2 separate regions of the Homo sapiens genome follow, and region 1 is linked to region 2. Evidence: fine-mapped expression QTL. A gene starts in region 2. The other region holds a variant in brackets. All regions are shown on one strand. Distances are from middle to middle.

Region 1 (5,369 bases), 47 kb before region 2:
GAGTGGGGCTACGGGCCTGGTCTGAGGAGGTGGCAGGCAGTGTGGAGAGGAGTGGTGGATGGGTTGGGGGCTGCTGAGGGGCCCAGATAGCAGGAGTTCATGAGTAATGAGCGAGGTGCCTGGTGGGGTGGGGGTTTCTGGATGACGCTGAGGGGTTCAGCCTGGGCTGCTGGCATGGAAGAACCCATGGTGAGCGGGGGGATGAGCAAGACATTGGACTGGAAGTCAACCAGGTACAGCACCACCTTTCCCCCTGTGGGCAGCCTCTGCCAGGGCGCAGACCTCGCCTTGACAGCCTTCTCCTCTGGGTTCGGTCTCTCACTTCCGCCATCATGCTGGGAGAGCGTTGAGGGAGTGAATGCCTTATAAGGGGAGAGAAATGGACTCCAGGCTCCAGATGCTACTCTCGTGTCAGTCTGCCCCTGGCATGGGGTGCATGTGTGCCTGTGTGTGTGTGTGTGGTGTGTCTGGTGTGTGTGTATTCACGTGGGGGGTCTGTGTGGTGTGTGGTGTGTGTTCATGTGTGTGCTGTGTTCATGTGTGGTGCATGTGTTCATGTGTGGGTGTGGTTGTGGTGTGTTTGTTCATATATCGTGTGTGTGTGTTCATGTGGGGTGTGTGGTGTGTGTTCATGTGTGGTGTGTGTGTGATCTGTGTGTTCATGTGTGGTGTGTGTATTCATGTGTGGTGTGTGTGTTCATGTGTGGTTTGTGTGTTCATGTGGGGTGTGTGTGGTGTATGTGGGGTGTGTGGTGTGTGTGTGGTGTGGGCTGTATAGGGGGTGCAGGCTGTGGGGCGTGTGAGTTTTCATGTGTGGGGTTGTGTAATGTGTGTGTTCATGAGTAGGGTGTGTCTGTGTGTGTTCATGTGTAGTGTGTGTAGGGTGTGTGTGGTCTGTGTGGTGTGTGTGGGGTGTGATGTGTGTTCACATGTGGTGTGTTTGTGTTCATGTGTGGTGTGTGTTGGCTGTGTGGAGTGTTTTCCATGTGTGTTGTGTGTTTTCATGTGGGGATGCATGTGGGGTGTGTGTAGTGTATGTGTTCATGTGGGGTGTGTGTGTTCATGTGTGGAGGTTGTGTGATATGTGTGTTCATGTGTAGGGTGTGTGTCTTCATGTGTGGTGTGTGGGGGTGTGTGTGTGGTCTATGTGATGTGTGTGTTTGTGTGTGGTGTATTTGTGTTCATGTGTGGTGTGGGTTGTGTGGGGTGTGTTTTCGTGTGTGGTGTATGTGGTGTGTGTGTTCAAGTGAGGTGTGTGTGGTGTGTGTGTTCATGCAGGGAACTGTGTGTGGTGTGTGTTCATGTGTGGCATGTGGGGTGTATGTGTTCATGTGTGGTGTGCAGGGTGTGTGTTCATGTGTGGTGTGTGCGTGTTCATGTGTAGGGTGTGTGTGTTCATATGGGACTATGTGGAGGGTGTGTTCATGTGGGGTATGTGAGGTATATGGTATGTGTGTTCATATGGGGGGTGTGTGTGTTCATGTGGGGAGTGTATGTAGTGTGTATGTGTTCATGTGTGCTGTGTGTGTGTTCATGTGTGGTGTATTTATGTGGGGTGTGTGGGGTGTGTGTTCATGTGTGTGGTCCATGTGGTATGTGGTGTATGGTGTGTGTTCATGTGTGGTGTGTGTGATGTGTGTGTGTTCATATGTGGTGTGTGTTCATGTGTGATGTGTGTAGTGTGTGTTCATGTGAGGTGTGTGGCATGTGTTCATGTGTGGGATGTACGTGGTGTGTGCTGTGTGTGGTCTGTGTGGTGTGTGTGTTCATGTGTGGTGTGTTTGTGTGTTCATGTGTGGTGTGTGTGGGGTGTATGGTGTGTGTGTTTGTGTGTGGGGAATTTGGGGGGTTTGTGGTGCATGTATTTGCAGAGCTTCCCATAGATGGAGCCAGGCAACCAACATTTCCCAGAGGTGGGTGATGCCCTCCCACAGTGCCACACCTCCCCAGTCCTGGAACTGCATTGGGTGACAGAGACTGGGCAAGAGGCCAGAAGCCTGGCCCCCTCCCCAGCAGCTCTCACACAGCAGCTGCAGAGGCTCACCCTAGCCTGTGACTTTCTGATGTTTCCCCCTTTCTGTCTGTCCCTGGCTCTGTCCTGCCTCTCTGTCTGTGTCACACACAGAGACAGCAGAGGGGCCTCCAAGGAAAGCTGAGACCCCGCTGGGTACAAGGTAACACTGTGTGGCTTCCAAGCAAAGCCAAGAATTATCTAGCCCTTCCTGTTCTCGGAACTGTGCTGTTTCCTAGACAACGTATTTTGTGTAATCATGGTCAAGGCAACGTACATTTCTGCCCAGAATCAAGGTCACAGTATAATACTGATTCACCACGGCAACAGCAGACTACTCATCTGACATGGGAGATGAGATTTGCGATGAAAACCACATGCAGATTGCTAGTTGCCCAGCGACTCTGCACCACGAAATAGGTTTGACTCCAGTGGAATCTGGAATCATGTCCTTAAAAGACACAGAGCCCCTGGTAGTTCAACATATGTAACTGGCCAGCCAGAGCCAGCCAGGCACATGGCGCCACTGGTA[G/A]ACAAACGTGCACATGACAGGAGCCTTTCCACCTGCCCTGGCTTCAGGAGTTTAGCTCAGTCCACAAATCCACGCCAGGAGCATTTCCCTATATAAACAAGCCCTGCGATGCTCCTAGTCCATCTGAGCTCACTGTGGACCAAGAAAGGCGAATGGTAGTTCTAGAAGAAAATCTTGTCATTTAGGATTTGATCTTTTTCCTAATTTCTCAGCCCAAGATCAACTGTTGGTGACCCCCTAGCTCTCACACCTCTCTTCTCTGGCCCCCTGAAATCAGAGAGAGGCAGCAGGGCCTCCTCTATTTCAGTAAGCTTGGGCTTGGGGCCATTATGCGGTCTGTGGGTCTGAGTCCCCAAGGCCTCTGGCTTGGGCTGAAGGAGAGAAGTAGGAACTGGGGCCCTCCAGCCTGTGGGGTGAGGTCTTCATGAAGGTGAATAGCTGAACCGTCTCCCCTGGGACTCCTCCAACCCCACTGTTGCTTCCCAGGAGAAAAGGCCTTTGGTGCCTGTCTGAGGCCTTGAAAGTCAGTTTTAAGTCCACCTCCCAGACAATGGCAGGTGATGGGTCTCTGGGGGGCCCAGCTGCATTGTATTCACGTCACCAGTATCCAGCCAGAAAGGAGGCCGAGATCACCTGGGGAGGTCACCCTCACCTTCTGCTGATGCCCAGAGGAGCTAGGTGACAGATTTTGTCAAAAGATTCAAATAGCCCAGCGCACATCCCCATTGGGTGCCTGGTGCCCTCACAGGCCACCTCTGTCTCACCCTCTGGCCTGAAGGCCGCCCTCAGTGGCCCCTTGAAGGTCAGCTGACCTCTTTTCCACCTGCTTTGGTGGCTTCTATTGCAGAGCCCCGAGGCCTCGAGATTGAGAACTGGGAGGATGGCCAGTGCTGACAAGGACAGCTATCCTGGGTGACAGCTCGGCCAACAGAAACATGCTCTAACTCAGAGTCCTGTGACTTAGGCTGGGGCCGCCAGTCTGTGCACGGCTGCCCAGGAAGGGCTGCAGGCAGCTTCCGTGGCCATGCGGGCCAGGGATTACAGCCCGCCTGCCAGGAAACCCTCTCAGCTCCACTGCTTTGGTTACCAACTTTCCTCTTTCCTAAACTTACAATCTGTTTGCATCTCATGGTTCAAGGAAATGCCAGAAGCGCTTTGTAGCAGATGCAGTGCTGGGCGCTTTTCCTCACCTCACTTCATTTCCTCCTTACAAGCCATTCCCTTTGCTGATTCCTCGGGGGCTGGGTCCTGGGACACACTGGTAAGCTGGGTGGATGTGGCTCCAGAGAGCCCAGGGGACGCATGGAGGTGGCCATCAAAAAAGAACGGACTGGGAGAAGTACTGTGAAGTGACCCAGCAGGACAAAGATGACTGGCAGCTGGGCTCCAGGAAGGGGCTCTGAGTAGGTGACCCTGAATCTGAAACCTGAGCGAGGCAAGAGAGCGTTCTACAGAAGAGGGGCACATGGGCCACGGCCTCGTGCAGCAGGCAGGATGGAAATGGTTGGACATGTTAGGAAACAGAGGCTCACATTGGTGAGTGTCACGAGTGGCTCTGACGTGTTAGAGCTTGTGACAGATCCCTGCTATCTCAGAGCTCCTGTCACCAGCAAGATTTGTGACAGATCCCTGCTATCCTCAGAGCTCCTGTCACCAGCAAGATTGCTTCAGGCCCCACTTCTTTCCTGGCATGATGCCCATCTCTTTCTCTCTTGAGGCCACGAGCTTCATGAGGGTTCTCGAGGCACCCCAGCCCTTAGCCTCTGCCTCTGTGCAGTAGGTGTTGATGACACAACCATGCGTGGAGCACCCACTTGGGCTGGCCCCGGGTTAGGAGCTCAGGGCACAGACATAGAACTCAGAGTTTGGCCAAGGAGATGGAAAACTCCCTCTACACCCCACTCTCGGCATCCAGGTGACCCCAGTGATCCCTCCACCTTACCTCCCGGCCCTTGGAGGTGGGCACTCAGCAGTCTTCTCCCCACTACTCCCTCCCGGCCCTGCATTCTTGCCTGGGCTCTCCTCCTCCCCCAGGCCTCCCACTGTGCCCCTGCCCTTGGCCCTTGCGTCTGCCTTCTCCTCCACCTCCTGCCTTGGGCAAGGCTGGCATGCATCCAAGGCCATGGCCCCATGTGCCACAGTGGGAAGGCGAAGGGGCCGCACCCCCTCTGCCCTGCGATGTCACGTCTGGCACTGCACTCCTCCCCTTTAGGCCTGCCCCATCTAGTCATGCTTGTCTGGAGTGTCCCTGCTGTTGTTTATCCCCCTTGCTCCCGCACTCTCATGGGTGCACCCTGGACCTGCCCACCGACCTCCCACTCCCAAGCACCCTTTCTCAATGGAAGCCTCTTCTTCCTTCCTCTACATCCCCGTGACCTTGATGGGAGAGAGCAACAGCCCTTGTCCCCGCCTACCTTGGCCCCAACCTCTTCCAGGCCTCCTTTCTTCACCATGCAGACTCCAGGACTGCCCCTCAACCGCCCCTTCAGCACTTCCCGCCACCCCTTGTTCCCCTGCCTTCAACGTGGCCGCTCCATGAAACCGCAACTGAGGACCTACAGGCAGAGGATGAAAGCGAATGCACCCATCCCCCACCCCCATTCACTGAGTCCCCACTGTGTGCCAGGGCAGGCACTATGCTGGGTGCTGGGGTACAGCAGTGAGCCAAGATCCGCCAGCCTTCCTGCCCTTGTGGAGGCAGTGGTCTAGACATTAAAAAGTAACTTCCCAGTTAGGTGACAACTACAAGTGGTGACAGTGATGTATAGGCGAATGCCAGGTGTTCTGAGAGCAGAAAAGGAGTTCTGGTGTCATCTAGGAGGAGAA
Region 2 (5,369 bases):
AATGAAGAGTTGAACTCAACAGAGACAAAAAACAACCCACGTCACAAAATGTAGTAATAATGAGATGTTTTCTGGTTGCCTTTGGATTAAGAACATCCCTGCCTCACTGCTGGATGTTTGGCTACTGGCTAACGGTAGCTTCTGAGCCTAAAGACCAGCGTTCAACTGATTTTATCGCACAAATAGCCAAGCAACATTCTCTAACAGGTGCGCTGTCCTTCCCTGGGCAGGGGAAAGGCAGCAAGACCACCCAAATAAGGCTCCTCTGGAAGGTTCCAGAAGCTTCCAAGGGGTGCCAGAAACACCTGGACTCTCTGAAGCATCTAAATAAAGACCTGGAGCAGAATGTCCTCAGGCCCTAAAGCTTGAGTTTACCCAGAAGACAACAGGTGGCTTGTGTTCTGCTCAGTTCTAGGCCAGAGCAACGGGTGTCTTCAAAGGTTTCCACTCACAAAAGATCCAATTCAGATGGATGCCTTCAGCTCCCTCTCCCATCCAAAAGGGAGATTAGACTCCAGATTCTCTTTCCTGAATATCTTTTCTCCTGTGAGTTGTATTGCTTGGATTGAGAGAACTGTCTCTGGGCAAAGACAGTTCAGCAACAGTGGCACAGATGAAAATATAAGTGCTTCCGGAACCAAAACGATACTCCTCACCATGTTGTAACCCCACCTATAGGGTCTTCTGATAGCATGCCCAGCGTCAAAGCCAGCAGACACCATGCATAAACACCCAGACTTACCCAAAAGAGACACACACGGATGACTCATCATGCCTCAGAACTACTCCAAGGGATCAGCCTGGCAGGTAAGGCCCCATCTGTTGGATTGCAATAATTCAGGTGAACAGAAGCAGACCTGTGTGCACCTCCCAGGAACATGTCCCCCACATTTTGGGGGATGTACTGAACTGGGCCAGATACAGGGTTCAACTGAATATATACTGCCACGATCTGGATCCACCCTAGCCAGGCCAGGATGCAACCCTTGAGCCAAGCCCTGGGCCACGCTGAGCCTGGCCTTCATGTTCTTTCCACCTGACAGGCCAGGAGGCGGAAGTGAAGGCCCCACGTGGGCCCATCCCGTCCCGTCCCAAAGCAGCAAACAGGCTGCTACTCGAAGTAGCAGAATCCTGAAGGGCCTAAAGAGAGGGTGTCTCACCAGGAAAGTCTGTCTCTCTTGGGGTATTTGTGTCTGTGTGTGCCTTTTTCTGTATGTGTGGGTGGGAAGGCATCTGTTTCCTCTCACTTTGCCTGGGCACCTGTCTCTTTCTGTTTGGGTTTCTATCTTATTTCCTTTCTATAAAAAGCCAGAAGGTAGACCAGAAGGGGATTTTGTAGTGTTTGTTGTACTTAATTGAGGAAAGCTTTGTGTTCCCATTTCTCCAAGAAGATTCATGGCATCTTACTAAAAATCGAAATAAATTTTAAGTATAGCTTCCTTTAGGTAACATCGCCTGGATACAAAGGTCGAAATTGGGGGTGGGGTGGGATGCTATGCAAATTGCAAAGAGCCCAGGGCCATCCAAGGAGCCCAGGCAGGTTTGGGTAAGGGCTGGATCACTGGGTGAGAAAGTTGGTGTGGAGTTCACTAAGAACTCATGTGGGAGTTTCGCAGGTTTGGGAGAGACCAAGGAGTCTGCATTTTTCAACAAGCACCCCAGGAGATTATGATGCAGAGCTGCACCTCCTTAACACTGGGCCTGTCTAGAATCTGGAGGTTCCCAGATTCTCCAACTCTCAGAATCTCTGTTACTGACAGGATTCCTGCCCAGGAACCTGCTGAAATGGGAGCCCACTATCTCTGAGTCTGTGCTGATGGTTAGAAGAGAATTCACAAGTTCTGGTAGATTTCCAAGGGGTCCCTCACAGACAGAAGGCTGCAAATTACTGCTCAATAGGGTTCTATATATAAAACTCAGTGTCTGACCCAGTTCAGTACATCCCCCTAGTAACATTTTGTGGGGATGTACTGAACTGGGCCAGATACTGTGCAAGTGGCTTCTACTTGAAGGTCCAATGTTGCAGGGTTGGGGGAAGGTGAGGGTGGGGAGGGGCTGAGGCAGCATTAGTACCTAGGGGAGGTGCTGTTCCAGCAATCCCATCTGAAATTCTCTTGTAAAGGAAAAATGTCGGGCTGAGGTTGAAGAGGAAATGTTTCATTGACTAAGGAGACTGGAGGGGGCCGCATGCCCAGCTAGGTCAAGGCTGGCTGGAGGGCTTCAGTTGGAACAAGGTGGCAGGGTGGGACCTCTGGGAAGTGGGCCAGGAATGGGGGCAGGGGGTTGTTTGAAAGGGACCATGGACTTTGGGCGGCAGGCGAGTGGGGGGTGTGTGTGGAAAAGATATATAATTAATCACCCAAATATAGACTGGAGGAGCCAGCAAAGGAGTTTAAGGGGGCGGGGGCACTGAAGTGGGAGATGGCGGCCCCCAGTAGGGCGACAGAAAAAGACTGGTTCAGACAGAGGGCCTTGAGCTCGGCTCACCGCCCCCTTTCCCCTGCCTCTCCACAGCTCTCTCTCTAGGCTACCTACCGGCCCCCATTCTCCCCACCAAGCTGAGGCTTAACCGCCCCCCCCCACTCCCACCCACTCAAAAGGAAAGGAGGGACTCCCCAGCGGGAACTGTTCCCACCTGGCCCACCCTCCCAGCTCCCAGACTGCGGCTCAGTCCCTCCCCTAGACCAGGGAAAAGTCCTTTAACCCCCACCCCTACAATGCCCCCTCCAGATCGGGCTCCTAGGAGCTAGGGGCAGGGGTCCTTTCTCTCCGCCCCTGAGCGGTTCCCATCTCCTAGCGTCCCCCAAAGAGCAGAGCAGGCCTCTACACTTTAGCGATTCCCACCCGGGATCGCCGCCCCCCGCCCGCCTCGGGAAGGCCTTCGGGCCTCTTCGTACTCGTCATCCGGGACCCGTTCCCTGCTCTGGCCCGCCCAAGGCCGAGCAGCTCTCCAACTGCCCAGAGACGCCCCCTCCCTCCACCGTGCACTCTTCTGCGGCCCGCACACTCGCTCCAGCCCCGCACACAGTCCTGCACCCCCTGCACATCCTCTCGCGGCCCTGCACGCTCACTCAGGTCCACACGTCCTCCTGCCGCCCCCACGATCACCTCCGCCCTGCGGCCCCTCCAGCGCCCCCCGCACATCCTCCCGCGGCCCGCACACTCACCCAGGCCCGGCGGCGGCCGACGCGCGGCCCTCGGTGGAGCGGCGCTGGCGCGGCCCAGGCAGGCCTGGCGTGGCAGGAAGCGCCACGGAGCCGCCCGTGCCCAGCCGAGCTAACAGCCCCGCGGCGCGTTTCCGGAGCCGTGAGCGCCGCCGGGGGTTCTGAGGGAGCGAGGCCCCGCCCCGGCCCCAGTCTCGTCCCCGATTGGCCCGGGAAGGGGGCGTGGCGGGAAGGGGGCGGGGTTTGGGCGGGGGCGGACTGGGCAGGCAAGTCTGATCAGCCTGCGGGGGAGCGGCGCGCGCGGGCTGGACGCTTGGGTGGAGGTGGGGAGGAGTGGAATGAGCGTGCGAATGAATGAATGAACGAGCGAACAAATCGACCAGCAGACGAAGGAAGGAACGAAGGAATGGAAGGGACCTCTCCCCCTTGGGCATCTTCAAGATGGTGGTGGGGGGAGTGAAGGGTCGGGAACTGAGGGCGAAGACTGGAAAGCCAGTATTCTGTATGAATGGAATCAGATCGTATGTACTATTGTGTGTCTGGATTCTTTCATTCAACGTGATGTTTTCAAGATTTATCTATGTTGTTGAATGTGCTATCGCTGAGTAGTATGCTATTGTTTGGATATATCAGAGTTGGTTTGTTCATTCACCAGGTTATGATCTGGGCTGTTTCCAGTTTGGGCGATTATAAATAAAGCTACTATGAATATTCATGTACACATCTTTGTGTGGACATATGCTTTCATTTTTCTTGGGCAAATACCTAAGAGATGAATTGCCACATCACAGGATAGTTTTATGTTTTATAAGAAACTGCCAGAATGTATTCCAAAGTGGTTGTGCAATTTACATTCCCACCAGAAATGTATGCGAGCTCCTTTTCTTTCCCATCCTCATCAACATTTGAGGTTGTCAGCCTTTATTTTTAGCCATTTGAAAGGGTGGGAAGTGGCATCTCATTGTTATTTCAATTATCATCTCCCTGATGACTAATTATGTTGAGTATGCTTTTATGTGCTCACTGGCCATTTCTATATCTTTCTTTGTAAAGTGTCTGTTCAAGTAGTTTGCCCAATGTTATGTGCAGTATATATATATGTATATATATGTGTGTGTGTATATATAGAGAGAGAGACAAAAGAGAAAGCTAGCCCATTATGTGCAATGTGTGTGTATATATGTGTGTGTGTATGTATGTATATATATATACACACACATGTAGTTCCTGAGAAATTTTATGTTTTCAACTTTCATTTTAGATTTAGGGGGTACATGTGCAGGTTTGTTGCCTGGGTATAGTGTGTGATGTTGAGGTTTGGGGTACGAATGACCCTGTCATCCAAGTACTGAACATAGTACACAATAGTTAGTTTTTAAACCCTTGACCCCTCCTTCCCTGACCCCTCTTGTAGTTCCCATTGTTTGTTGTTCCCATCTTTATGCGCACGAGTACCCGATGTTTAGCTCCCACTTATAAATGAGAATGTGTGGCATTTGGTTTTATGTTCCTGCATTAATTCACTTAGGATAACAGCCTCTAGCTGCATCCATGTTGCTGCAAAGGACATGATTTCATTCTTTTTTTATGGCTGCATAGCATTCTGTGGTGAATGCCTACCACATTTTCTTTATCCAATCCACCACTGATGATCACCTAGGTTGATTCCACGTCTTTGCTATTGTGAATAGTGCTGTGATGACCATACAGGTGCATGTGTCTTGGTGGTAGAATGATTTATTTTCCTTTGAGTATATACCCAGTACTGGGATTGCTGGGTCAAATGGTAGCTCTGTTATAAGTTGTTTGAGAAATCTCCAAACTGCTTTCCACAGTGGCTGAAATAATTTACATTCCCATCAGCAGTGTATAAGTATCCCCTTTTCTCCACAGTCTCTCCAGCATCTCTTATTTTTTGACTTTTAAATAATGGCCATTCTCACTGGAGTGAGATAGTGTCCCATTGTGGTTTTGATTTGCATTTCTCTGATGATTAGTGATGAGAGCATTTTTTTCATATGTTTTTTGGCCACTTGTATGTCTTCTTTTGAGAAGTGTCTGTTCACGTCTTTTGCCCATTTTTTGATGGGGTTATATTCTGGATATTAGACCTTTGTCAGGTGATTTTCTCCCATTCTGTAGGTTGTCTGTTTACACTGAGATATATTTGACAGACAATAAACTGTGAATTTGTCATGTTTCAGC

Alleles and levels. Positions count from the first base shown, and alleles are read on the strand shown. Sizes are in standard deviations (SD) of each study's normalised expression.
For the expression in pancreas of the gene that starts at base 3,300 in region 2, G is the low allele of the variant in region 1 and A is the other (small effect, 0.29 SD a copy in GTEx).

Evidence for each region.
Region 1: its variant is fine-mapped to the expression of ZNF275 in pancreas (GTEx, PIP above 0.99).

Annotation. Positions count from the first base shown.
Region 1 is chrX:153,378,979-153,384,347 of GRCh38, reverse strand. No RefSeq gene overlaps it. Among named protein-coding and RNA genes, the nearest start is that of PNMA6E, 20 kb to the left of the region's middle. The variant G/A (reference allele first, on the strand shown) is at 2,544.
Region 2 is chrX:153,332,084-153,337,452 of GRCh38, reverse strand. ZNF275 (zinc finger protein 275) reads right to left here and starts at 3,300. Exons shown (of 4, transcript NM_001367757.1): 1 at 3,168-3,300; 2 at 743-819. The coding sequence starts at 773. It overlaps MIR12129 (microRNA 12129), which reads right to left and starts at 1,991; the gene lies at 1,916-1,991. RefSeq lists silencers at 2,967-3,046, 3,137-3,506.